Linked DNA regions of Homo sapiens: all the other regions are linked to region 3. Evidence: fine-mapped QTL for protein levels in blood plasma. Region 3 holds a variant in brackets. A gene starts in each other region. All regions are shown on their reverse strands. Region 1 holds the start of CPXM1 (carboxypeptidase X, M14 family member 1). Region 2 holds the start of DKK1 (dickkopf Wnt signaling pathway inhibitor 1). Region 3 overlaps SYTL4 (synaptotagmin like 4). Region 4 holds the start of PDGFA (platelet derived growth factor subunit A). Region 5 holds the start of THPO (thrombopoietin).

The links. PIP is the chance, under the fine-mapping model, that this variant and not a neighbour inherited with it causes the effect. Protein levels are from antibody-based Olink assays in UK Biobank. Linkage for the fine-mapping came from a reference panel and not from the study's own genotypes, which makes the PIPs less certain.
Region 1: it holds the start of CPXM1, and the variant in region 3 is fine-mapped to the plasma level of the CPXM1 protein (UK Biobank, PIP above 0.99).
Region 2: DKK1 starts here. The variant in region 3 is fine-mapped to the plasma level of the DKK1 protein (UK Biobank, PIP above 0.99).
Region 4: PDGFA starts here. The variant in region 3 is fine-mapped to the plasma level of the PDGFA protein (UK Biobank, PIP above 0.99).
Region 5: THPO starts here. The variant in region 3 is fine-mapped to the plasma level of the THPO protein (UK Biobank, PIP above 0.99).

What each region holds. Positions count from the first base shown.
Region 1 is chr20:2,797,862-2,802,961 of GRCh38, reverse strand. CPXM1 (carboxypeptidase X, M14 family member 1) reads left to right here and starts at 2,335. Exons shown (of 14, transcript NM_019609.5): 1 at 2,335-2,561; 2 at 4,069-4,236; 3 at 4,425-4,534; 4 at 4,671-4,810; 5 at 4,904-4,994. The coding sequence starts at 2,390. RefSeq lists enhancers at 1,792-2,777, 2,778-3,765, 3,766-4,753.
Region 2 is chr10:52,310,412-52,315,499 of GRCh38, reverse strand. DKK1 (dickkopf Wnt signaling pathway inhibitor 1) reads right to left here and starts at 1,219. Exons shown (of 4, transcript NM_012242.4): 1 at 823-1,219; 2 at 415-577. The coding sequence starts at 1,065. It overlaps PRKG1-AS1 (PRKG1 antisense RNA 1), which reads left to right and starts at 1,372. Exons shown (of 6, transcript NR_038277.1): 1 at 1,372-1,866; 2 at 2,015-2,102.
Region 3 is chrX:100,702,384-100,707,483 of GRCh38, reverse strand. SYTL4 (synaptotagmin like 4) reads left to right here. Exons shown (of 20, transcript NM_001370165.1): 3 at 2,598-2,673; 4 at 4,299-4,391. Among named protein-coding and RNA genes, the nearest start is that of SYTL4, 27 kb to the left of the region's middle. The variant A/G (reference allele first, on the strand shown) is at 2,081.
Region 4 is chr7:517,843-522,942 of GRCh38, reverse strand. It overlaps PDGFA (platelet derived growth factor subunit A), which reads left to right and starts at 3,097. Exons shown (of 6, transcript NM_033023.5): 1 at 3,097-4,004. The coding sequence starts at 3,942. PDGFA-DT (PDGFA divergent transcript) reads right to left here and starts at 2,552. Exons shown (of 3, transcript NR_033963.1): 1 at 1-2,552. RefSeq lists silencers at 1-302, 623-762, 883-962, 2,628-2,967, 3,068-3,157 and 2 more and enhancers at 618-1,539, 3,384-4,305.
Region 5 is chr3:184,375,128-184,380,224 of GRCh38, reverse strand. It overlaps THPO (thrombopoietin), which reads left to right and starts at 2,018. Exons shown (of 6, transcript NM_000460.4): 1 at 2,018-2,150; 2 at 3,821-3,978; 3 at 4,210-4,337; 4 at 4,624-4,710. The coding sequence starts at 3,966. It overlaps CHRD (chordin), which reads right to left and starts at 171. Exons shown (of 23, transcript NM_003741.4): 1 at 1-171.

The DNA.
Region 1 (5,100 bases), not on the chromosome of region 3:
AATACCACAAATACATCTTGCCAGGTTAAATCAAAGGCAACAGTTAAAGTCTGAAATTCTTGAATGAACTTAGAGGGATCCTGACTAAATGAACCCAACTTGGATTGAATTTGCAAAAGATCAGACATGATCAGAAAAGGGACATGAACTTGGCTTGTTCCCAAATCTTCATTAGCCACCTTAGGGAGAGGCAAAATATTTTGGGGATTTTTCTGAGGACTCTGTACTAGTAGCATATGTGACTCCCCTGAGAGTATGTGAAGGGGAGAAAGTATTTGGGTATGTGGGTGGGAGATTGACTAGGGAATGGAGCAGATGGAGAGGGTGTAGGTGAAGAGTGAGCAGGTTGAGGAGGATGTAATAGGCAAAAGGAAGGATCATCTAAGACATCAGAACCGGGAAGGGAGGACGTTCCTTGGAAGCATACATGACAATTTGTATGTAATTTTGGGTTTGGATTTGGGGATAAAGCAAAAAAGACCTGAACATATGGGACTTCTGAATCCTTTCCAAGGTTCCGGCAAAAAATCAGTTAAGTTGTAAAGTAGCATTGCAATCCCAAGTTTCATTAATTGGCCAAATTGATTGATTAGGGAGCTTGTATTGAACCCAAGCAATATTAGAAAAAAGGATATGCTTTTTAAACTCTTATTTATTTTTTATTTGTATTTTTTGAGACAGAGTCTTGCTGTGTCGCCCAGGCTGGAGTGCTGTGGCGCCATCTTGGCCCACTGCAACCTCCGCCCCCGGGGTACAAGTGATTCTCCTGCCTCAGCCTCCCTAGTAGCTGGGATTATATGTGCCCGCCACATATAATTAGCCCCCTGGCTGATTTTTTTTTTTTTTTTGTATTTTTAGTAGAGACAGGGTTTCGCCATGTTGGCCAGGCTGATCTCGAACTCCTGACCTCAGGTGATCCACTCGCCTCGGCCTCCCAAAGTGCTAGGATTACAGGTGTGAGTCACTGTGCCCGGCCAAGTTTTGCATTTTTAGTAGACTCCCGGTCTTTAACTCCGGACCTCAGGTGATCTGCCTGCCTTGGCCTCCCAAAGTGCTGGGGTTACAGGCATAAGCCATTGTGCTCAGCCTTATATGCTTATTTTTAAGAGTTTGTGGGTCAAAATGAGACCAATGGGACCATTTTTAAGGAGGCAATCCAAGGGCGAGTTGGATGGAACTGAATTAATTGAACCGAAGTTGGGTTTAGACAAGGAACTACAAGATCCCTGAGGCATCCCTGTGTAGAATTGAGATCCACCGCTTCCAGGACAAGGCTTATGGAGTGTTAAAATGAAAGTGCCCTGCCACTCTGACAGGCAATAGCTCTTTTGTCTTGGCCTTGGGGTAATACCGGGGGATGGCGCTTGGCCAGAAACTGTCAGTTGCCAACGAGAACTCAAGCTGGTTCACTGGCAGTCCGAAAACAGAAAAGAGCCCTGGCCAGTCCCTCACCCCTAAGGGCAAGGACAGCCAGGTATCCCTTCTCTAGGGCTTCAGGATCCCACAGAAGAGCTGCCTCCACCGGGACCGGCAGTTCCCCAAAGAGTAAAGAACCAGACCGTGGAAGGAAGCAGAGAGAAAAAGGAAGAGGGAAATCCCAGTGAAGTCCCCGTATGGGCCACCAAGATGCCAGGCGAGGTGTCAGAGCTCCGGAACCGGGAAGTGGTTGGCTCCCGGGTGGTAAAAGAACTTATCAACAACCGTGTAGGTCTGAAAAGGAAAGTTTTATTAGACGGAAAGGACGAGGCAGCAGAGCGCAGTAGGCGCTTCAGCAAGAGAGGACTGAGCTCCCTGCGGGGAACTGCAGGGTAATTTGGACCACATTAGTCACTTAGGTCATGGTAAATGGTTACATTTGTCGATATTTTGGTGCCTTGATGTCAGCAAAGTTTGCACAATGGGTCTTAACGTGCACTCATTCCGGAAACGTACAGAAATTCTAGTTACTTATAAATTCTTGGGACGGAAGCTTGGTACCAGATGTGGCTTTAGACAATAGGGAAGTGTCATTCTGAATTGCTCAGATAAGGGGCTTTGCCTCCTGTTGGTCGACTTGATGGCCACCAGGTGATCTCTGGTCTCTTCAGTGTGGCTTTGCAGACTATAAAGGCGCAGCGCGCCAACGAGGCGGGTTGGCCCCAGACGGCGGAGAGGAAGGGCAGAGTCGGCGGTCCTGAGACTTGGGGCGGCCCCTTGGAGGTCAGCCCCGCTCGCTCCTCCCGGCCCTCTCCTCCTCTCCGAGGTCCGAGGCGGGCAGCGGGCTGTGGGCGGGCAGGAGGCTGCGGAGGGGCGGGGGGCAGGAAGGGGCGGGGGGCTCGGCGCACTCGGCAGGAAGAGACCGACCCGCCACCCGCCGTAGCCCGCGCGCCCCTGGCACTCAATCCCCGCCATGTGGGGGCTCCTGCTCGCCCTGGCCGCCTTCGCGCCGGCCGTCGGCCCGGCTCTGGGGGCGCCCAGGAACTCGGTGCTGGGCCTCGCGCAGCCCGGGACCACCAAGGTCCCAGGCTCGACCCCGGCCCTGCATAGCAGCCCGGCACAGCCGCCGGCGGAGACAGCTAACGGTGAGTTCCCCGACCGACGGTCCGCTCCCCCGCAAGCCGACTGCCCGGCTCTCCTGCCCCGTGGGGCGATCCCTCCCTAACACGCGGGCACACGCACACCCACGCACACTCACAGTCATGCACACTCACCCCGCACGCACACTCGCACTCACGCGCACACACGCGCGCGCACTCACACACATTCACACACGCGCACACTTGCACTCACACGCGCGCGCATTCACACGCATGCACACACACGCACACTCACACGCGCGTGCGCGCACACACAGTGCACGCGCGCGCACACTCACACTCACAGTGCACACACACATATACACACTCACACTCCCTCAACTCCCTGCTGGGAGCAATGGCTGCTGACTCGGCAGCCCCAGTTCCCTGCCAGACCTAGTCAGCAGTCCCAGGACAGGCGCCAGTGGGATGCTGCCTCTTCCAAGCCCCAAACCTTCCCTTTTCACCAAAGACAAAACAGGCCAGAACTGGCAGGAGGGGAGACAGAGGGGCAGAAGCTCTCAAGGTGCAGAGCAAGACTGCGTAGGAGAGAGTTTGAAGGCGAGGGCTGGAGAGAAAGAACAAAAGGAAAGAAGGGAGAGCCCCTCGCTGAGGCTGCCGGGAGGATGGGGCAGAGCGGGAGAGGAAGGCAGCCCGACCTCCCAGCTTTCCAGATGTGGAATAGGAGAGGAGGAGCGCAAGCGGAGGGCACTCAGGGGCTTCTAGAGGAGGCAAGTGGAGGAGGGTCTTGAAGGGTGATGTCCCCGAGTCAGGGGAGTCTGGAGAGAGAGAGAGAGAGAGGGCTGCCAAGAAGGAAGCGGCGGGCAAAGGCACAGGGGCACCAGATGCGGAAATGGGCAGCCTGTTCTGGAGGCAGCTGTGGAGCTTCGATGGGTACCCCCAGCACCTGCCTGGGCAGAGCCTTGTGCTGAAGGGCCGGCGGGCAGGCCCAGCCCTGAAAGCCTCGACACCCAGGCAGACATGGATTCCAGGACAGGCCATCTGAGCCCAGAGAGCAGACACAACAATGGAAGCGGCACAGGGGTTTTGGGGCATGATGCTGAGTCTGGAGCTAAGAAAGCCTCCTTGGAAAGGCATCTGGGCTGAGATGCAAAGGAAGAATGGGAATTAGGTGAAAAAATCAGAGGCGAGGGGTAGCATTACAGGGGAGGGGATAGCTAGTGCAGAGGCCCGGAGGTAAAGTGCCAGACTCAGCTCTTTGGAGCAACCGAACAGTTTCTAGAGGCTGGGTGCAGCTCTCCATTGGATTAGAGGTTCACAGGGGAGGCTGGCCAAGCATGTAGTTACATCAGGGAGGAGAAGGAGGAGCCAAGGAAGTGACTGGAGAGGCAGGTTGGGGTCAGATTGCAGGCCTTTGATGTCCTGTGAAGGCTGTTAGATCCTGGTGGTGTGGCCTGCTGTGGGCTCACATGTCTTCTTGGGCTGGCAGACCTTTCCATCCGGGGTTTCACCATTCTTCCTTTCCCCCATGCTGTGCCTCTCGGACCCCAAGGGACCTCAGAACAGCATGTCCGGATTCGAGTCATCAAGAAGAAAAAGGTCATTATGAAGAAGCGGAAGAAGCTAACTCTAACTCGCCCCACCCCACTGGTGACTGCCGGGCCCCTTGTGACCCCCACTCCAGCAGGGACCCTCGACCCCGCTGAGAAACAAGAAACAGGTACTTCCTCTCCAGGGGCCCAGCCCAGACTTGCAGCCCCTGGGGCACTTTACCAGCACAGCTCTTGGCCTCATGGGCACCGGCACGCCCCTTGCTTGCCTAGCGCAGGAGCAACCTTAGGCTCAGCTTCCCACCTGCCCTGGCTACCCTCCCTCTGGTCCTGTCTCACTGTTCTATCCCCGCCCCAGGCTGTCCTCCTTTGGGTCTGGAGTCCCTGCGAGTTTCAGATAGCCGGCTTGAGGCATCCAGCAGCCAGTCCTTTGGTCTTGGACCACACCGAGGACGGCTCAACATTCAGGTCAGTAATCCTGGCTCGGAGCCATGGTCTCAGGGTAGGGAAGGCAGCCCCTGGGAGCTTCTCTCCTGCCTCCTCTCTGTCCTGGCCTGCCCCACTCTGTCCAACTGGGCCTGACCACCATGTCCTGTGTCTGCAGTCAGGCCTGGAGGACGGCGATCTATATGATGGAGCCTGGTGTGCTGAGGAGCAGGACGCCGATCCATGGTTTCAGGTGGACGCTGGGCACCCCACCCGCTTCTCGGGTGTTATCACACAGGGCAGGAACTCTGTCTGGAGGTGAGGCAGACTAACCCTAGGTCAGGAGGTCACAGAAGGACTGGGGTGGGAGTCCTGGGGGCACCGATGATCTCTCTCCACCTCTCCTGCCAGGTATGACTGGGTCACATCATACAAGGTCCAGTTCAGCAATGACAGTCGGACCTGGTGGGGAAGTAGGAACCACAGCAGTGGGATGGACGCAGTGAGTGGTCCCACTGTGGCTGGGGCCTCCATGCTGGGAGTTGGGCACCCAGTCCAGGCTAGGCTGAGGCTCCTCTGAGGACAAGGAATAGACGCCAGCTTAGGCT
Region 2 (5,088 bases), not on the chromosome of region 3:
AATAAGAAAAATGAAAAGGACAGCTGAACGCCAAAGCTGGTTTCTTTGATATCTGTATGATCCCATCGTCCTCCTCATCATCCCCCTTCTCAATTGACCTCAAGGTTCTCCCCAGACAAATTTTTATGGAAGAGTCCACTACGAGGTGAACCGTTGTATTGAATCATTGAGGGACACGGAGGAAGATAAGGACCTCAGAGACCTCCCAACTTCTCTCTTCTTCCCGATTAAACACTTGCAATGAAGATACTTCAGCGGAATCCTGCATGCTGAACACCCATTTGCAGGTGGCGCCGCAGTGTTCTCAGGGCGGAGATTTCTCCCCCCACCCCCCCCAACCCCCCGCCCCCGCCCAATTCATAGACGCTCAAAGGCTGGACAGTTTTAGTGTGAAAGGGAGCTTTCAGGACTCACCATTTTTGCAGTAATTCCCGGGGCAGCACATAGCGTGACGCATGCAGCGTTTTCGGCGCTTCCTGCAGGCGAGACAGATTTGCACGCCTGCGTCCCCTCCGCGGGTGGGACTAGCGCAGTACTCATCAGTGCCGCACTCCTCGTCCTCTGCGCACGGGTACGGCTGTGGGAAGGGTTCGGGGAGAGGGTGAGGCACCCAGACGTCCAGGTACCCGCCCTCTTGGACCCGGGCGCTGATCACAGTCCTTATCTGTCCACCTCTCCAAAACCTGTTACTGCCCACTGCTCCCAAATGCAGGGTTACCAAATGCTCCCTGAACCGCACACATTCAGCACGTTCTACTCCCTCGTCTCCAGATAGGACCCTTTCAAGGTCAGAGCATCCTCTGAGTGCCCGACCCCTCTCACCTGGTAGTTGTCAATGGTCTGGTACTTATTCCCGCCCGGGTACAGGATTCCCGGCGCGGCGCTGACTGCAGAGCCTGGGTGCCCCGCAGCGCCGCCCAGCGGTGGGGGCAGGTTCTTGATAGCGTTGGAATTGAGAACCGAGTTCAAGGTGGCGCTCACTCCCAGCAGAGGGTGGCCGCCGAGAGCCGCCGCTACCATCGCGACAAAGACCCGGGTAGCTCCCGCTGCGCCCAGAGCCATCATCTCAGAAGGACTCAAGAGGGAGAAAGAAAGAGAAAATGACCGTCACTTTGCAAGCCTGGGTCCCCACGAAACCGTGCCGGTTCGGCTGCAGAGTCAGGGTCCGGGAGCCCCCTGCGGTCCCAGAGTCCTGACTGCAGGGAGCACAGAGCTCTGCGCCGCCACCGCCACCGCGGCTGCCTTTATACCGCGGGCCCGGAGCATTCCGGCCCCTTGGGAGGGAGACAACAAAGCCGGGATGGGATTTCAAAGCGCTGGGAGGGGCTGGGAGGGGGTGTGTTTGTGTACATGAAGGGGGGCCTTTGACACTCTTCACCCCGCCCCTCCCTTGCTTAGTCGCTCGGCTGGCCCGGCTCACCTTCGGGGTGAAGGCTACCAGCGAGCGTTATAGCAGACGACTTTAATAAATGCAGGCGGCAGCAGGAACTCTGGGAACTTGGGTGCCCTTGCCTGGCAGTAAGGGTTGAATTATCCGGATCTGAAATACTTTACAGAGCCGAGGGGTGATAGGCTCTGCAAAAGCACTTTTTGCCCCTCTCCTTTATGCCAATACTCGCTGACTGTGCACACAAGTCATATTCAGTATTAAATACAAACCGGTCTGTAATTCAATGGCTCTAGCAAGACGCCTCTGAGAGGGCCAGGTGGCGGGTGCAAGTTGCTCATTAACCCTTTAGAGTCGCAGTTTGCAGATCTGAGTTAGATCCCCGGCTTTGAGGTCCTTCAGTTGCCCTCCTCCCCCACCTCCCCCCGCCACTGCGAGAAAAATGTGCAAAGAGAAGGAAATTTGCACATCAAACGAGGGTAAGAAGGAAGAAGAGCTAATTCTCTTTTGATGGGAAGTTTAGAGAGGGAGGCGAGAGACTGGCGTTTAGAAATTAGATCAGGGGTGGAGGGAAGAGGGAAATGACCATCCGATAATCAAACCATTTAATGTTGTTCTTTGAATCAGGGCAATCGCGGCGGTAGATGAACTTGATTAGGCAGACGCGTGAGATCAAAGTGGCCGGGACCAAAGCGGACAGGGTCCAACGTGCCAGGTCAGTCGCCTTTCCCCGGTTCTCCCTTCTCAGTGGTGGGCTAATGTGGAGAAATAAGAAACCCTTAGGGCTTAGCGCCTGACTTCCTCATTAGTATATCACATCGCAACGCTTCCGAATGCAGGGTTTGCTCCCAAGTCTTACCTTGCACGGGACCACGCAATACCCTTTCTAGGGAGAAAAGAAACAACCTTGAGGAGAAGAAGAGCTGAAAGTGAATTAGAAAGTGAATTTGACGTCATTGAAATTGGTGTGTGGATATAATAAAGTAAGGCTGGTGTATAAGAATGATGTCATGCTTATAAATGGGAAATGATCTATTTAATTCAACAAAAACTTATTGGAAGCCTAGAGCCCTGGCATTGGGCTGCCCTCTGGGTTGTTACCTTATTTTTATTTTTTAAATTTTTTGGTGAGATGGGTGGTGGGGGGAGGGGCACAGTGAATACAAATATTTATGAGACACAGCTCTCATTTTAAATAATAAAGTTCTCTTTATTCTAATTACAGTAATAATAAAAGATGTAGTAACAATAAAATTATAGCAATAAATATAAAAGCATACATAATTCTTTTAAAAACAGGTTGATATTATAAGTGTCAGAAAATAAGCAACTGTTTTGTGAGTTTGGAAAAGGGAGAGATGATTGAATAATCACTATTGAATTAAAAAAGAGTAAGATATATTTATTTTGTCTTCCTCTAAGCTGTATAGATTTAGGCTGTCTATAATGACTCCACATGCTGACCTACTATAGTCAGAACTGGGGCCACCACCAAGTAAAGCCAGTGACAATCTTAAAGTAAAAAAATCCTAAAGTTTACTGGGAGAAGGAGTAATTAAAACACAATTTACTATGGTCTGTGTTCTAGTTCCTTCAGTTTCAAAGGTAATATTAAGAAGATCATCTAAACAATTCTTGAATGGTACCCTAGTTATATTAGTGTCCTTCCCATCCCAAATTCCATCTGTCCAGGAAATTATCCTGTCAGGAATCAATGCGTTAAGCACCTTCAGTGTACTAGGAAATCTGCAAGCTGTGTTAAGTTTGAATGACTTTGAAACGTAGAGAAAAATCCGCCTGCCAATCAGAAGGTTGAAAATGTTTCTTTTTAGTCCTATTAACCTGTTTAAATATTTTGAATCTAGAAATATATTTGTGCCACACTAAAGGCCAATCTCTTGCCTTTTTTTCTGAAGAGATAGTATATGATTAATACATTTAATGAACTTGGTTCATTAAAAGCTTGGCTTCACAAAAAAAATCCATTGCCTGGGGCAAAAGAAGAGAAAGTGGAACAATTTAATCAACAAAAGGAAAATTCTGTTATAACAAAGAAGCTTGTTGCATAAATTCAACCTTGATCTCTGAACACATATCATTTGTCTATTATGTTTCAATATTCACTGAGTCTGGACAGAATCTGTGGTATTGAGCTAGGAGAGCTAAACCAAGCATAGAGTTTCAAGAATGGGCTAGCTTCTACCTCCTTCCTCAGCTTTCACATTGCTCCTGAAGTTGTCATGAGTTTAAAACTAATAATGAGTTGGTCAATATCTGAGTTCCTACTTTGTGCTAAGCATTATACATGATATTGTGTGATAAAAGATGAGTTCACATATAATCTACCTTCAAATCATTTAGTGGGCAGAGGAGAGGTAACCTCACAAATTATTCAGGGGAGAAATTACATGGGTGGTCCTCAGAGAGGGCTAAGTACATAGCAAATCAAACCTTTGTTCCAAATGAGGAAATTTATTTTTTCAGTACTTTTTCTCCATTTGAAAATCCTTTCCAGGATGTGGTTTGTTCATTGGCAACAAGAGTGCAAGGTAGATAAAGAGGTATAGTAAAACTCATTGTTCCATCAGCAGCCAGTTAATATTCGGTGAGTATCCATTATTGGGAGCATATCTCACAATATGAAAGGCAGGCTTCTTGTCCTCAGCTTTCAGTCTGTGACTAGTTGGGGAAATACAACATACTTACATGGGGCTGGGGGTAAAAATTTTTCCAACATCGATTATATTTTGGCAGATACTAGGTCATGGAGAGCAAGAAAAATGTGCAGGAACTGTGACCAACATGTCTTAGGAAGGAGAGAGGGTTCTGGTGATTGTCTGAGTCTCTCTTACAGCTGGGTGACAGAGGAGGTGGGAGCCAGAGTAGATGAATTTAGTTTATTAAACTGAGTTTATTTAGTCCTGTAGGGAACCCTGCCTCCTATTCAGTCTGGTATAAATATGATCATAATTAATGTAACAAATTTAATATTTTGTATTATATTTTTGAATAGGTGAAATATGCTTATCAGCGTGGAATTGAACCTCATAACTCGGGAACAGCATGCTAACACATGTCTTCTTTATATTTTAAGTGCTGGATGCCATGCATAGAATATTTCTCAACCTTTTCATCCATGAGGGAGACAGACAAATATACTCCAAAACACTCCATGCTATTCACCAACTATTTTTCCATCTCTATTATTTGTGACTGCTGATTTTTTTTATTTTATATATTTTTATATATTTTTTGAGACAGGATCTCATTCTGTCGCTCAGGCTGGAGCACAGTGGTGCAATCGTGGTTAACTGCAGCCTTGACCTCCCAGGCTCAAGCGGTTCTTCCACCTCACCCCCAAGTAGCTGGGACTACAGCTGCATGCCACCACACCTGGCTAATTTTTAATTTTTTTGTAGAAACAGGGTCTCACTATGTTGCTAGCCAGAGCTGGTCTTAAACTCTTAGGCTCAAGTGATCCTCCCACCTTGGCCTCCCAAAGTGCTGGGATTACAGGAGTGAGACACCGCGCCCAGTCTACTGCTGTATTTTAAATTCCCTTCTTTCCTCTTTTCTTTTTTCTCTCCCTCCTTCCCTTCTTTCCTTCTTTCTCTTCATTAAATCAAAAGAAGCAGATTTGTTGCCATATAATTTTACTTTGCTAGGAAAATACCGCATACATATCATTCCTTACGGTGGGT
Region 3 (5,100 bases):
TAGAGAACATTCTATGCCATAGTATGGGGAGTAGTGATGGTAGTGAGGTAGGAGGCAGGTATTTTCCTCTAAGATGTTAAGGATAGATTTAGTACCATTATGATCTCTTCTTTGACATGTGGGTTATTTAGAAGTGTCTTTATAAATTTTAAAAAAAAGTATTGTGATAAGAAATTACCTTATTTTAAATTGATTTCTTATTTAATTTAATTTCCTCGAAGTCAGAGACTGGTCTGTATGGGAAGGATTTTTTAAAAAAATTATGCAGACTTGCATTACAGCCTAGTACATGGTCAGTTTTGGGAGTAAATATTCTATATGTGCTTGAAAATAATGTAATTCTCCAGTTGGATATAGACTTTTTTTGTATTCCTATTAAATCAAGCTCATTTTGTTGTTCAACTTGTCTATATATTTACTAGTTTGTATCTGCTTGTACCATTCATAATTGCAACAACAAAGAAGTATATGTTAACCTCTCATTTTGATGGTTGATTTTTCAATTTCTCTCTTTTGTTCCTTTGTATATTTAGTGATGTTTTATTAGTGGGTGCATATTTATTATCTCTATGTAGTGATCTTATCTAACCTTTATAAAGCTTTTATTGTCTTTTTTACTTTTAGATATTAATATAGCTACCTCAGCTTTCTTTTGGCTAGCATTTACCTGGTATATCTTTTCCTATCTTTTTACTTTCAATTTTCCCTTCAATTTATGTTTTAGATGTGTCTCTCATAAATGGCACATAACTGGATTTTTTCCTTTTATCCAGTCTGTTAATTCCTGTATTTCAAAGGGTGAATTTTGCTCATATATGAGTTTCATATTCATTGATATACTTGAACTTGTTTTTACCATTTTACCTTTTGTTTTCTCTTTGTCTCAGTTTTTTCTGCACTTACCTTTGTCTTCTTGCCTTTTAATTTTTGTTCTTAATTTGTTTTCTGCTCCTCATTACTGATTCTGCAAGATCCCATTGCAAACAAGCTGGCTGTTAACAGGGTTAGTGTTGGAAACAACAGCAACCTATGGTGGAAGGTGGGGCTTGGGGTGGGATATGGCTTTTCTGAAAGGAGTCAGATTGGCAAGTGATGGGGAAGAGGAGGCAGGGAGCTGATAGAGTCCATGTCTGATGGTCTTACAAAAACCTTTTTACAAGTATGAGACAAGCATGTCTGATGGGACTGGAGGGAAGGGAAGTGGGAGTGTGAGATGAATGAAGGCTTGAATAGAACCCAAAGGGACTAGGTAAAGGAATTGAACAAGCATAAGTAACAGAATTTATGGGTGACAATGAGGGTTCAGCTGAGGTTGTAGACCAGGAATTATGTAGAACCTGGGTATAGGAGCAGACAAGGCAGGCTAGAGCATTAGCACAGGTTTGGGATTTTCATGGGCAGTTGTGGCAGAGGGATGAAGGTATATGGATATGGAAGGTACTGGTGAGAGTGGTTCAAATGTTGAGCCATCTGGAGTCCAGGATGGGTATGGGGGGAAGATAGATCAGCAGAAGGCAAGTGGACCAAGAGACAATGTGGGGCTCAAGAGACTGTGGTCTTGATAAAGTTGAAGAACAGATAGAGCAGGAGTGAGCTGTGGTTGGAAAGTGGGAATTCTTGAATTTAAGATTTCAGAGGGGGCAGTTCTGGTTGGTCAGGTCCATAAATGAAAAAGAAAGGGCAGATGTACAATATTGGTAGTTCCATTTTCTTAAGATACTATCTTTATTTCCTCAAGGATCTTCTTACTTCCCTGGATTTTGATATTACTTGGTCTCATTATTATGCCAACGTGCCTTTCTCATCACAATATTCTGCTGCCTCTCCACAAGCACCAGTTTTTAAATCTGATATGGTTCTCATTTCTAGTGTGCCTGTGCTATCCTTGCTTTTTAGCTGACAGGTAACTGATAATACCTCTTTTATCCAGGAGCCACTGATTTTTTTGCGCAGTGTTTCAGCCGTAATCACACATATGGGAATTCATTTCCACAATGCTTTTGATTTGTCTGTTTAGTACTTTATAGTTGCTTTGGTTATAATTCTGCCTAGACTGAGCCTGTAGAGCACCAACTCTGGT[A/G]TCAGATTGCCTGGGCTTGAATCCCTGCAATTTCACTTACTTGCTCTTTATTCTTGGGCAAGTTAGCCTAACCTCTCCTGAATCCTAATCTATACAATGGGGGTAATAATAGTCACTCATTCTTGGTATTGTGGCAAGGATTAAATTAGTTAATATATGTTAGGTACTTGTTTGGCGTATAGTCAATTCTCAATAAAAGATACTGTTGGGGTGACAATGACAGTGATTGCAATATTGGCAGCATATGCAAAATTGCGTACCAGATATTGCATTAAGTGCTAGGGCAGATACAGAGGAGAAGATTGAAAAAGTCCTTGTTTTCATGGAGGGTATATATTCTCCTTGGGGATAAGAACTAAGAACACTTCCTCAAGACTGTCTAAGAAAGGGTGTGTGCAAGAGGCTTAACATCTTATAGTTCAATAAAGACCAGGAAATATACAAGTTGAGGAAATATTGAGGTTTCAGGAACCTGTATAGCTTTGCCGTGTTGTTTATGTTCTCCACTGTTTTGTAGGGAACTAGTAAAAAAAGAAAAAGAAAAAATAAAGTGAAAGAGGCGTGTTGTCTAGTTTCAAAGGAGAGGAGAGAAGGTAAGTGTGATTCTCATTTCCTTTTTCACTCTCTGTCTACCTTGGGCTCTTTGACTCCCATGACTACCAAGTGTATATTATCAGATACATTTTTTCTTCCTGAGGTCCAGCCCTGTGTCTCCAACTATTTCCTGGGCCCAGTTACCTGGATATCAAGTATGCAACACTAACTTAATAGGGTTAAAACAAAACTTTTTGCCTTACTTCCAAACCTGTTTCTTTCCTTACATCTTCTATTGCTATGAGGGCTGTCACTAGCCAGTCAGTTGTTTAATCTTGACTGTGAACTAGGCATCTTTGACTTCACCTTCTTCATCCTCTCTGCTCAGTCAGTCTCCCTATTCTGTCAATTCTACTTCTCAAACCTATTCTGTTTTTTCTTGCTGCCTGGCTCAGGCCTTTATCATTTTAGAAGATTCAGCAAGTATTTGTACTCCAAACATTGTGATTGGCCCTTTAACACACATTATTTAATTTTTTAAACAACGTTTGAGGTGGGTCGTTTTGTAGATGAGAAACCAAAGAGTCAGAAATAAAATGACTTCTGCTGGGCACGGTGGCTCTGTCTATAGTTCCAGCTACTTGGGAGGCTGAGGCAGGAAGATCACTTGAGCCCAGGAATTTGAGTCCAGGCTGGGCAACATAGTGAAACTCTGTCTCTAAAAATGAAAAATAAAATGAAATGAAAAATAAAATGACTGGTCTAATTGTTTAGAGGCACAGTTAGTAAATCTAGATTGTCTTTTGCTGCAGTATTGTAATAATATCTCTGCCTCATTTGTATTGTTTTCTTTTTTGAGATATAAATGGAAGATATATGTAAAAACAAATTAGAACTATGTGAAGTAAAAAGTGAAAGTTGCCCCTTCCCAATTCTACTCCCCAAGGGAAACCAATGATAGTGGCTTTTGTTCTAGACCTTTCTCTTTGCATATACAAATATTTAGATAAATTCTTTATAAAAGATCATTTTTTATTGTCCTACAACTACTTTTTCACTCATGGCCATATTTTTATGTCAGTACGTGTGTATCTACCACATTTTTAATGGCGACATAATGTTCCATTATGGGGACATATTATTTTGTTTAATGATTCCTATGTTAAATAACTGTTTCTGTTCTTACAAATAATGTTGCAGTAATAGTCTTGTGCATATACTCTTGCTTGTGCATTTGTATGAATATTTCTATTAGGTAAATTCTTAGAAGTCATATTGCTTGGTTAAGTATATGCCTATTTTAAATGTATGTACTACCAAATTGTCCTCTGATTTGTCCTCTAAATCAGTCTTTCATATTATAACTAGAGCGATATAGCTATAATATGTCTTTGTAAAGTGAATTTCATCATGTGATTTCCCAGCATCAAAAAGCAACATCAGAGATGTTTGGTGGATTTCTATTGTCTATGCAGTAAATTTTAAAATTAAAAAAAATTTTTTCCAGACAGGATCTTGCTTTGTTGCCCAGGCTAGAGTGGGCCACATGTGATGGCGTGATCTCAGCTCACTGTAGCCTCAACCTCACAGGCTCAAACAATCCTCCCACTTCAGCCTCCCGAGTAGCTGGGAATGCAGCCGTGTACCATCATGGCTAGCTAAGTTTTGATTTTTCTTTTTGTAGAGACTGAGTCGCCCTGTGTTGCCCAGGCTGGTCTTGAACTCCTAGGCTCAAGAGATCCTCCTGCCTCAGCCTCCCAAAGTGCTGGGATTACAGGTGAGAGCCTCCATGCTGAGCCAAAATTCTTAAAATTTTAAAAAAGTTTTTAAGAGTTATGTAATCTGGTCCCAAACTATCTTTCCTACCATTCTTCCCTACCAGGAAATTTGTCCTCTGATAAGGCAAAATCCACCTCTTCTGTGAAATTTCCCATGTATACTGCTCTCTTTCCTCTCTCTATGCAAGATAGAATGAGTTGCTTTCTTCCCTAAGTTCTCATAGCACTTAATTTATAGTCCCTTATAATCCCTCTGATAGCACTTAATGCGTTGTACTGTATTTATGTGTGTCTGTCTCCCCTGCTACTCTGTGATTTTCATAAGGGTAGGAACTGTGCCTTACTCATCTTTGTATCCCCAGCACTTTACACAATGCCTGTCAGCGTAGTGCTCAACAAGTGTTCATGAATTTGGGAAAGATATCCTGGAGGTAGTGCTAGAGTGCTAGTATGATAAGAACTTTGAGAGATAGAGTAGGGGGTGGAAGTTTTGAAGTATAGCAGAAAGCTGACTGACTCCTGGGAGAATGGAAGCTGGTTAGGAATAGACAACTGGGCTTAAACTGGCAGGAGCCTTCATGTGCTTTTCTCCTTCACTGCAGAGACCAGCTGCCTGGTTATTTGGGTTAATAGGCTTGAGATTTGAGAACATTTAAAGTATTAAAAATTGGATGATTGAGGACTCACTTGGTGGAGGGGGAGATTGAC
Region 4 (5,100 bases), not on the chromosome of region 3:
GACGTCCGGCCACCCGCCCCTGCTGCGCGACGGCCCCCCTCGCTCGGCCTATTTGGGGCACCTGACTCACGGTAATTATGAGCCCGCGGGCACGTCGGGGCGCGCCGGGAGAGGCCGGATGCACCGGCTCCGGGGGCGACCGGACATCCCAGGCCGCCAGGTGCACCTTGCTTCCCACCAGCACCTCCCCGCACCCGCCGGGAGCTCCCCGCTGCTTCCGCCAGGGGCCCCGGGCTCACCTCGGGGCGCCCACGGACTCCCAGACGCGCGCCTCAGCATGGGGTGCGAATGTTTCGGGGGCGGCGCGCGGGGCGCGTCTGCCTCCCGCACAAAGCCAGGCTCTGTCCCGGGGTCAGCGCCTCTGTCTCCCGGGCCTGGGCGGGGACGCCCACGCCTCCTCCGACGCGGGAGTATATTTAGCCTCATTATCAAATGTTTGCAGTGAACTGTGTGAACCGACTAATAGCGGCTGGAAGTGAAACTCGATTCCTGGCCAGAAAGAAGCATGTGACCGCCCCCGTCTGCAAGGATCGCGGCAGGGCGGGCGGGGCAGGTGCCGCAGCCTCCGCGCGCAAAACCCGCCGGCGGGGCCCGGGTCGCACCGTCCCCTCCTGGGCCGAGCACCTGAAACCCACCTCGTCCCTCCGTCCCCCTCCCCAGGGGCTGCAATGAGGACGCTGGGAGTTTGAATGGAAACGAAGGCCGGGGAGGGGGGTCCGCGCGGGCGTGGGTTTTTTATCCAAGTCGGTGACCTCTTGGTTAAGTCAGCCCTGCGGTTTCAACGCCCAATCCCCCCAAAAAAGCCTGTGGGGGTCCACGTCTCCTTGTGTCTTCCGGGGATCCGGCGGAGAATGTGGCGGGGCCGGGCAGGGGGGTCCCAGTCCCACGCCGGGTGCGTCGTGCCCCGAGTCTCCCCAGAAGGCGGCTGTCGCGCGGCTGCACAAGTTTTCGCCTCCCTCGCGCGGCCGCTGTTGTTGTGGTCGCCATGGCGACGGGTCGCGGTTTTATTTTTAATAGCGGCCGGCGATTAGAGAGATGCCTGCACCGCTTTCGCCTAAGCTCTGCGTCCCCCGCGGGTGAAGCACCCACGCCCCGCCCCAGCCCCCGCCTCGCTCCAGCGCCCCTTGCACGTCCCCAGGTGGCCCTAAACTCTAGCTGGGCGCACCCGTAGCTCCAGGCCGGGCAGGGGAGCCGAGGGAAGCAGCCATCTAGGCCCTCAGAGGCGGCGAGGACCCCCAGGATCCCTCAAGCTGGGAGGGACGGGTACCCCATCCCCAATACAACGCGACCTTCCTCCTTGCCTTCCACACCGTCTTACCGAGTCCTCTAACCCCACAGAGGTGTCCTCGGGCCCCCTCTGCGCGCGAGCAGTCCGAGGCCCAGGAAGACAGGATGCGCGCCACTCCGGGATAACTGGCCGAAGAATGAGGCCGGGGTCCGGCCTGCGTCCTGGCCCTGCGAGTCCGGCTCTTTCCAGAAGCCATGCAGTGGGTGTCCCCTCCCAAGCCGCAAGTTCCCCCTGGAGGGACAAGGCCTGGCTTTAAGGGGCTCCTCCACGTTTCCAAGGCTCCCCTGGTTCTGTCCCGGTCCCGCTTGGTCCTGACCACCCAGAGGGCATGCTTGACCGCGGGGGTCGTGGTGTGGGGCTGCGGCCAACGGAAGGGAGAGACGTGGGGAGGGGGCCTGCAGGTGTGTGGAAGGGCGCGTGTAGACGCGACCCACTGGGAGCGGAGGGAGAGGCGTCGCTCCCCAAATATTTGGGGGAAGGGGAGAGCCCCCGAAGCGCTCTCCGGATTCGGCCTTTGAAATGCTAGAGCTGGCCTAGCTGGGGATGAAAGACCGCCCGCGGGGCTGCGCCTTAACGGCCTTTGTCTGGAGGGAGGGCGACCGCGACGGGGGCAGGGGTTTAATCGACAGGGTTGGGGGTGACGGCTGGGCCGGGCGGGATTCTCCGCTGCTCACCCAAGGAAGCGTCTCCTGGGCTCCAGGGGCCTAGGCCGTCTAGCCTCGGGGTCTGCACAGCACGCCACCCCGCTGGACCCGGTACCAGGACGCGTAGACCCCCTGGCAGGGCACTGACGAGCACCTGGACCTGTAGTCAGGGTCCAATCCCTCCTGGTCTAGGGAGGCGAAATCCATCCAGCCCAGGCGCACCCGCCCTTTCTCGGCGTGGGAGCCGTCTAGCCACGCTCAGACCTCGGCCTCCGCGCGCGTTCCTCCCCCGCATCGCGCTCTGAGCTGCGCCTCGGCCGGAGGTGGCGCTCTGTGCGCCCCACGGATCCCGACGCGGGAGGCTCAGAACCCGGGGGACCCTCACCGGTGGCTCCTTTCCCTTCCATCCCCTCGACTTCCCGGCTCAGGGCGCGGCCCTGCCTTCGGCGCGGGAGTGGGGGACTGGGGGGCGCGGGGTCCCAGGGTGGGGACGAGGCGGGCTGCAGGCCCTTTCCCCGACTGGAGCTCGCTCCCAAGTGGAAATGTGGGTGGAGGGTCCTCATTCAGATGCCCCAGGCCTCGGATCCTGGGCGGGGGCGCGTGGCAGCCGCCAGGTGAGTGCCCCAAACCCGCCCCCCTCCTTCCCCAAAGACTGACTCCCCCTCCTTTTATGGAGAGAGGAAGGCTGGGGCCCTGGATCCGAACCGTGGAGAGCGGCCGGAGCGCCGGGGCGGGGGCGGGGACCGGCTCTCTGGCCCTTTTTGGCGCAGCAGCTCTGGGCGCTGCCCGCTGCCGCCGCTGGGGCCCGAGAGAGGCGAGCCGGCGACGGCGGCGCTTCTGCGGCGGCCTCCTCCCTCCCCACCCGGTGCCGCAGGATTGCAGCTGGCACTGGAGGGTGGGCAAGCTCGAGGGAGGGGCGCGGAGCCCCGGCGCGGAGCCGGGCGCGGGGCTTTGATGGATTTAGCTGCTTGCGCGAGCGCGTGTGTGCTCCCTGCCGCGGCGGCGGCGCCCGGGCCCTGCCGGGTCCGCACGAACCCCGAGCGCTTCCGAGGTGCGGGTCCCAGGCCCGGAATCCGGGGGAGGCGGGGGGGGGGGGCGGGGGCGGGGGCGGGGGAGGGGCGCGGCGGCGGCGCTATAACCCTCTCCCCGCCGCCGGCCGGCTCCACACGCGCGCCCTGCGGAGCCCGCCCAACTCCGGCGAGCCGGGCCTGCGCCTACTCCTCCTCCTCCTCTCCCGGCGGCGGCTGCGGCGGAGGCGCCGACTCGGCCTTGCGCCCGCCCTCAGGCCCGCGCGGGCGGCGCAGCGAGGCCCCGGGCGGCGGGTGGTGGCTGCCAGGCGGCTCGGCCGCGGGCGCTGCCCGGCCCCGGCGAGCGGAGGGCGGAGCGCGGCGCCGGAGCCGAGGGCGCGCCGCGGAGGGGGTGCTGGGCCGCGCTGTGCCCGGCCGGGCGGCGGCTGCAAGAGGAGGCCGGAGGCGAGCGCGGGGCCGGCGGTGGGCGCGCAGGGCGGCTCGCAGCTCGCAGCCGGGGCCGGGCCAGGCGTCCAGGCAGGTGATCGGTGTGGCGGCGGCGGCGGCGGCGGCCCCAGACTCCCTCCGGAGTTCTTCTTGGGGCTGATGTCCGCAAATATGCAGAATTACCGGCCGGGTCGCTCCTGAAGCCAGCGCGGGGAGCGAGCGCGGCGGCGGCCAGCACCGGGAACGCACCGAGGAAGAAGCCCAGCCCCCGCCCTCCGCCCCTTCCGTCCCCACCCCCTACCCGGCGGCCCAGGAGGCTCCCCGCGCTGCGGGCGCGCACTCCCTGTTTCTCCTCCTCCTGGCTGGCGCTGCCTGCCTCTCCGCACTCACTGCTCGCGCCGGGCGCGCTCCGCCAGCTCCGTGCTCCCCGCGCCACCCTCCTCCGGGCCGCGCTCCCTAAGGGATGGTACTGAATTTCGCCGCCACAGGAGACCGGCTGGAGCGCCCGCCCCGCGGCCTCGCCTCTCCTCCGAGCAGCCAGCGCCTCGGGACGCGATGAGGACCTTGGCTTGCCTGCTGCTCCTCGGCTGCGGATACCTCGCCCATGTTCTGGCCGAGGTTGGTGCCGCCCCCGCGCCCCGTCCCTGCGCCGGCTCCTCCGGCGCACACCCCCCGCCGGCTGGGGCGCCACGGGCTCTGCAGAGAGCGTTTTGGTTCCTGCCAGGGTGGTCGATGTTTAGATTTTCCCAACTGGGTTCTATTTTCTGCCATGCCTAAGTGTGTGTGGGGAGTTTCCAGCGTGTTGCGTCGGTCGCTCTGCCTCGGGGGGACCGGGGAGCAGCGAGGTGGACGAGTGGGCAGAAACTTCGGGGGGCGCAGTGTCCTCTCCGGGGAAGGGGAGCTGGGGCGCAGCGGGCGCTGCAGCAGCGGGGTGCGGGGAGCGGGGAAGGGGGTGTGTGTGAGCCGGCGGAGCCTGGGGAGGAGAGAAGGGCGGCGGATAAATAGGTAGGGGCGGCTGCTGCGGAAGCCCCTGGCCGGGCAGGGTGGGCAGCGCCAAGCTGCAGCCCTCGGTTCCCAGTCCCCAAGCCCGGCGGGGCTCAGGGCCGGCGCAGTCCCGCCCGCCCGGGCCTGCTTACAGGTGGCTGAGCGAGGCGAGCTGGGGCTGGGCCAGGCGTCCGCACCCTCCCACCGCGGCGTCCCCGCCCCCCCATCCCCATCCCCATCCCCATCCCCGGGAGCTTTGCTGTGATGAATGACTTTCCACAGCCCCCGTCGTGGGAACTTAGTGCTTCAGGCTCCCCAGCGACCCCCGACTCTCCTTAAAAATCGGGGAGGGGAGTGGGGGAGGCCAGAGGTGAGGGTGGTCTCCGCAGGGCACGGAGAGCTGCGCGAGGTGGAAGTTTAACCCTCGCTTTCCCTGGAGGCTTCTTCTCCCGGCCGCCGGCTGGATTTGGGCGTCTTAGTCGGCGCTAGGGCCGCGGCTGGGCCGGAGCCCGGGGTGGGGCGAGTGTGTGAGTGAGATGTGTGTGCGCGTGTGTGTGTCTGCGCGCGCGTGCGTGTGTTTGTGAGACGGAGAGACCTCTCCACGGGTTCGGCCCGGGATTCCGGGGCGTGAAATTTAAGCCCTGCCTGGATTAAAGTGTTAGGGCTGCCGTGACTCTCGCCGACCCGTGACGCATTTTAACTTGATCTTTCTAGATGTTGATCTCACTAT
Region 5 (5,097 bases), not on the chromosome of region 3:
CGGGGGCGGTGCGGCGGGAGGGGGCCGGGGCCGGGGCCGGGGCCGGGGCAGTGCCGCGAGGGGCTCGTCGGGCGGCCGCAGAGTCGGCGCCGGGCCGGGCGGGGCGGGAGGAGCGGCCGGGAGGAGCGCGGGCGGGCGGGCGCTGACCCGGGCCGTACGCGGCTCTACTGCCCCGGGCGCCGGCTCCGGCCCGTTTTATGCCCCGCGCCCGACGCCCCGGCCGGGGGCCTCCTCCTCAGCAAACGGGGCGGCGGCGGCAGCTCGGCGAGGGGCCGGGCTGAGCCCGGGGGGTCCGACCCAGCAGCAGCGGCCCGGATCGCGGGTGGGGGAGGGGAGGGAGGGGCTGGGACCGGGCAGGGGAGGAGGGAGGGGCGGGAGGGGAAGGGGGAGCGGGGGAGGGGGAGGGGAGGGACCAGGGGGCGCGAAGAGGGGGAGGAGAGGCGGGCCCGGAGCCCCCCGCTGCTGGCGGCCACAGGGCGGCTGGACCAGGAGGTCGGTGTCCAGCCCAGGAAGGGAGCCTCAGGCTAGGGAGGGGCAGAGGCTAGGCCTGAGGCCTGGACCGCTCTGTGAGCGAGGACCCGGTTCCGCCCGAAGGATGAAGACTTGTCTTTAAAGATGACAACGTACAGGAAAGGTCCATCAGCCGATCTCCCCCTGCCTGGGCCCACAGCGCCCCCCAAACCCTCACCACCCTCTCTCACTGCCTAGCCTGCCTCCCTACCTTCTCTCTGAGGTCGCTCCTCATTCTTGTGTTACCCAGGACAGGGACCTAGCCAGAAACCGGCAGCATTCCCCCTTCTGTGGAGTGACAGTATCTCCCTCTCATTGTAACTTATCCTCAGGCGCATTCGACAGTCCCCTCTTGCTTTCTCACCCCCTTCCTTCACCCAAGGGACCCTCTGCCTCTCCAGCCCACTCCCAGCCTCCTTTCTCTTGGTTCCCTGGTCATGCCTGCCTCCCTGTCTCCTGTCTCTCCCTCCCACACACACCCACTATCCTCCCAGCTATCCCAGCACCCTCCTTCCTAATCTTGGGAGACATCTCGTCTGGCTGGACGGGAAAATTCCAGGATCTAGGCCACACTTCTCAGCAGACATGCCCATCCTTGGGGAGGAGGAACAGGAGAGAGCCTGAGGAAGTTCTGGGGGACAGGGGGATGATGGGATCAAGGTCAGGCCAGGAAGCCCCTGAGGACAGAGACTGTGGGGAGACTGGGACTGGGAAGAAAGCAAAGGAGCTAGAGCCAGGGCCAAAGGAAAAGGGGGGCCAGCAGGGAGGTATTTGCGGGGGAGGTCCAGCAGCTGTCTTTCCTAAGACAGGGACACATGGGCCTGGTTATTCCTCTTGTCACATGTGGAACGGTAGGAGATGGAAGACGGAGACAGAACAAGCAAAGGAGGGCCCTGGGCACAGAGGTCTGTGTGTGTAGCCATCTAAGCCACTGGACCCCAGCAGACGAGCACCTAAGCTCAGGCTTAACCCAGTGCACGTGTGCGCACATACATGTGCCCCGCACCTGACAGTCCACTCAACCCGTCCAAACCCTTTCCCCATAACACCAACCCATAACAGGAGATTTCTCTCATGTGGGCAATATCCGTGTTCCCACTTCGAAAGGGGGAATGACAAGATAGGACTCCCTAGGGGATTACAGAAAGAAAAGCAGGAAAGCAAGCATCCTGTTGGATTTCAGCAGCAGGTATGATGTCCAGGGAAAAGAAATTTGGATAGCCAGGGAGTGAAAACCCCACCAATCTTAAACAAGACCTCTGTGCTTCTTCCCCAGCAACACAAATGTCCTGCCAGATTCCTCCTGGAAAAAAACTTCTGCTCCTGTCCCCCTCCAGGTCCCAGGTTGCCCATGTCCAGGAAAAGATGGATCCCCCTATCCAAATCTTCTCCGTGGTGTGTGTGGGTGGAGGAGTGGACCCTGGTCCAGGCAGGGGCTCCAGGGAAGAGAAGGCGTCACTTCCGGGGGCCTTCACCAGTGTCTGGTGGCTCCCTTCTCTGATTGGGCAGAAGTGGCCCAGGCAGGCGTATGACCTGCTGCTGTGGAGGGGCTGTGCCCCACCGCCACATGTCTTCCTACCCATCTGCTCCCCAGAGGGCTGCCTGCTGTGCACTTGGGTCCTGGAGCCCTTCTCCACCCGGTGAGTGGCCAGCAGGGTGTGGGGTTATGTGAGGGTAGAAAGGACAGCAAAGAGAAATGGGCTCCCAGCTGGGGGAGGGGCAGGCAAACTGGAACCTACAGGCACTGACCTTTGTCGAGAAGAGTGTAGCCTTCCCAGAATGGGAGGAGCAGGGCAGAGCAGGGGTAGGGGGTGGGGTGCTGGTTTCTGAGGGACTGATCACTTACTTGGTGGAATACAGCACAGCCCTGGCTGGCCCTAAGGAAAGGGGACATGAGCCCAGGGAGAAAATAAGAGAGGGAGCTGCACTTAGGGCTTAGCAAACACAGTAGTAAGATGGACACAGCCCCAATCCCCATTCTTAGCTGGTCATTCCTCGTTAGCTTAAGGTTCTGAATCTGGTGCTGGGGAAGCTGGGCCAGGCAAGCCAGGGCGCAAGGAGAGGGTAATGGGAGGAGGGCCCACTCATGTTGACAGACCTACAGGAAATCCCAATATTGAATCAGGTGCAAGCCTCTTTGCACAACTTGTGAAAGGAGGAGGAAGCCATGTGGGGGGTCCTGTGAAGGAACCGGAAGGGGTTCTGCCAAGGGGGCAGGGAGGCAGGTGTGAGCTATGAGACAGATATGTTAGTGGGCGCCTAAGACAAGGTAAGCCCCTAAGGTGGGCATCACCCAGCAGGTGCCCGTTCCTGGGCAGCTGGTCTCAGGAAGGAAGTCCCAGAACTGTTAGCCCATCTCTTGGCCTCAGATAATGGAGTATTTCAGGACTTGGAGTCCAGAGAAAAGCTCCAGTGGCTTTATGTGTGGGGGTAGATAGGGAAAGAATAGAGGTTAATTTCTCCCATACCGCCTTTTAATCCTGACCTCTAGTGGTCCCAGTTACAGCTTTGTGCAGTTCCCCTCCCCAGCCCCACTCCCCACCGCAGAAGTTACCCCTCAACATATTGCGCCCGTTTGCCAGTTCCTCACCCAGGCCCTGCATCCCATTTTCCACTCTCTTCTCCAGGCTGAAGCCACAATACTTTCCTTCTCTATCCCCATCCCAGATTTTCTCTGACCTAACAACCAAGGTTGCTCAGAATTTAAGGCTAATTAAGATATGTGTGTATACATATCATGTCCTGCTGCTCTCAGCAGGGGTAGGTGGCACCAAATCCATGTCCGATTCACTGAGGAGTCCTGACAAAAAGGAGACACCATATGCTTTCTTGCTTTCTTTCTTTCTTTCTTTCTTTCTTTTTTTTTTTTGAGACGGAGTTTCACTCTTATTGCCCAGGCTGGAGTGCAATGGTGCGATCTCGGCTCACCACAACCTCCGCCTCCCAGGTACAAGCGATTCTCCTGTCTCAGCCTCCCAAGTAGCTTGGATTACAGGCATGAACCACCACACCCTGCTAGTTTTTTTGTATTTCGTAGAGCCGGGGTTTCACCATGTTAGTGAGGCTGGTGGCGAACTCCTGACCTCAGGTGATCCACCCGCCTTGGACTCCCAAAGTGCTGGGATTACAGGCATGAGCCACTGCACCCGGCACACCATATGCTTTCATCACAAGAAAATGTGAGAGAATTCAGGGCTTTGGCAGTTCCAGGCTGGTCAGCATCTCAAGCCCTCCCCAGCATCTGTTCACCCTGCCAGGCAGTCTCTTCCTAGAAACTTGGTTAAATGTTCACTCTTCTTGCTACTTTCAGGATAGATTCTTCACCCTTGGCCCGCCTTTGCCCCACCCTACTCTGCCCAGAAGTGCAAGAGCCTAAGCCGCCTCCATGGCCCCAGGAAGGATTCAGGGGAGAGGCCCCAAACAGGGAGCCACGCCAGCCAGACACCCCGGCCAGAATGGAGCTGACTGGTGAGAACACACCTGAGGGGCTAGGGCCATATGGAAACATGACAGAAGGGGAGAGAGAAAGGAGACACGCTGCAGGGGGCAGGAAGCTGGGGGAACCCATTCTCCCAAAAATAAGGGGTCTGAGGGGTGGATTCCCTGGGTTTCAGGTCTGGGTCCTGAATGGGAATTCCTGGAATACCAGCTGACAATGATTTCCTCCTCATCTTTCAACCTCACCTCTCCTCATCTAAGAATTGCTCCTCGTGGTCATGCTTCTCCTAACTGCAAGGCTAACGCTGTCCAGCCCGGCTCCTCCTGCTTGTGACCTCCGAGTCCTCAGTAAACTGCTTCGTGACTCCCATGTCCTTCACAGCAGACTGGTGAGAACTCCCAACATTATCCCCTTTATCCGCGTAACTGGTAAGACACCCATACTCCCAGGAAGACACCATCACTTCCTCTAACTCCTTGACCCAATGACTATTCTTCCCATATTGTCCCCACCTACTGATCACACTCTCTGACAAGGATTATTCTTCACAATACAGCCCGCATTTAAAAGCTCTCGTCTAGAGATAGTACTCATGGAGGACTAGCCTGCTTATTAGGCTACCATAGCTCTCTCTATTTCAGCTCCCTTCTCCCCCCACCAATCTTTTTCAACAGAGCCAGTGCCCAGAGGTTCACCCTTTGCCTACACCTGTCCTGCTGCCTGCTGTGGACTTTAGCTTGGGAGAATGGAAAACCCAGATGGTAAGAAAGCCATCCCTAACCTTGGCTTCCCTAAGTCCTGTCTTCAGTTTCCCACTGCTTCCCATGGATTCTCCAACATTCTTGAGCTTTTTAAAAATATCTCACCTTCAGCTTGGCCACCCTAACCCAATCTACATTCACCTATGATGATAGCCTGTGGATAAGATGATGGCTTGCAGGTCCAATATGTGAATAGATTTGAAGCTGAACACCATGAAAAGCTGGAGAGAAATCGCTCATGGCCATGCCTTTGACCTATTCCCGTTCAGTCTTCTTAAATTGGCATGAAGAAGCAAGACTCATATGTCATCCACAGATGACACAAAGCTGGGAAGTACCACTAAAATAACAAAAGACTGAATCAAGATTCAAATCACTGAAAGACTA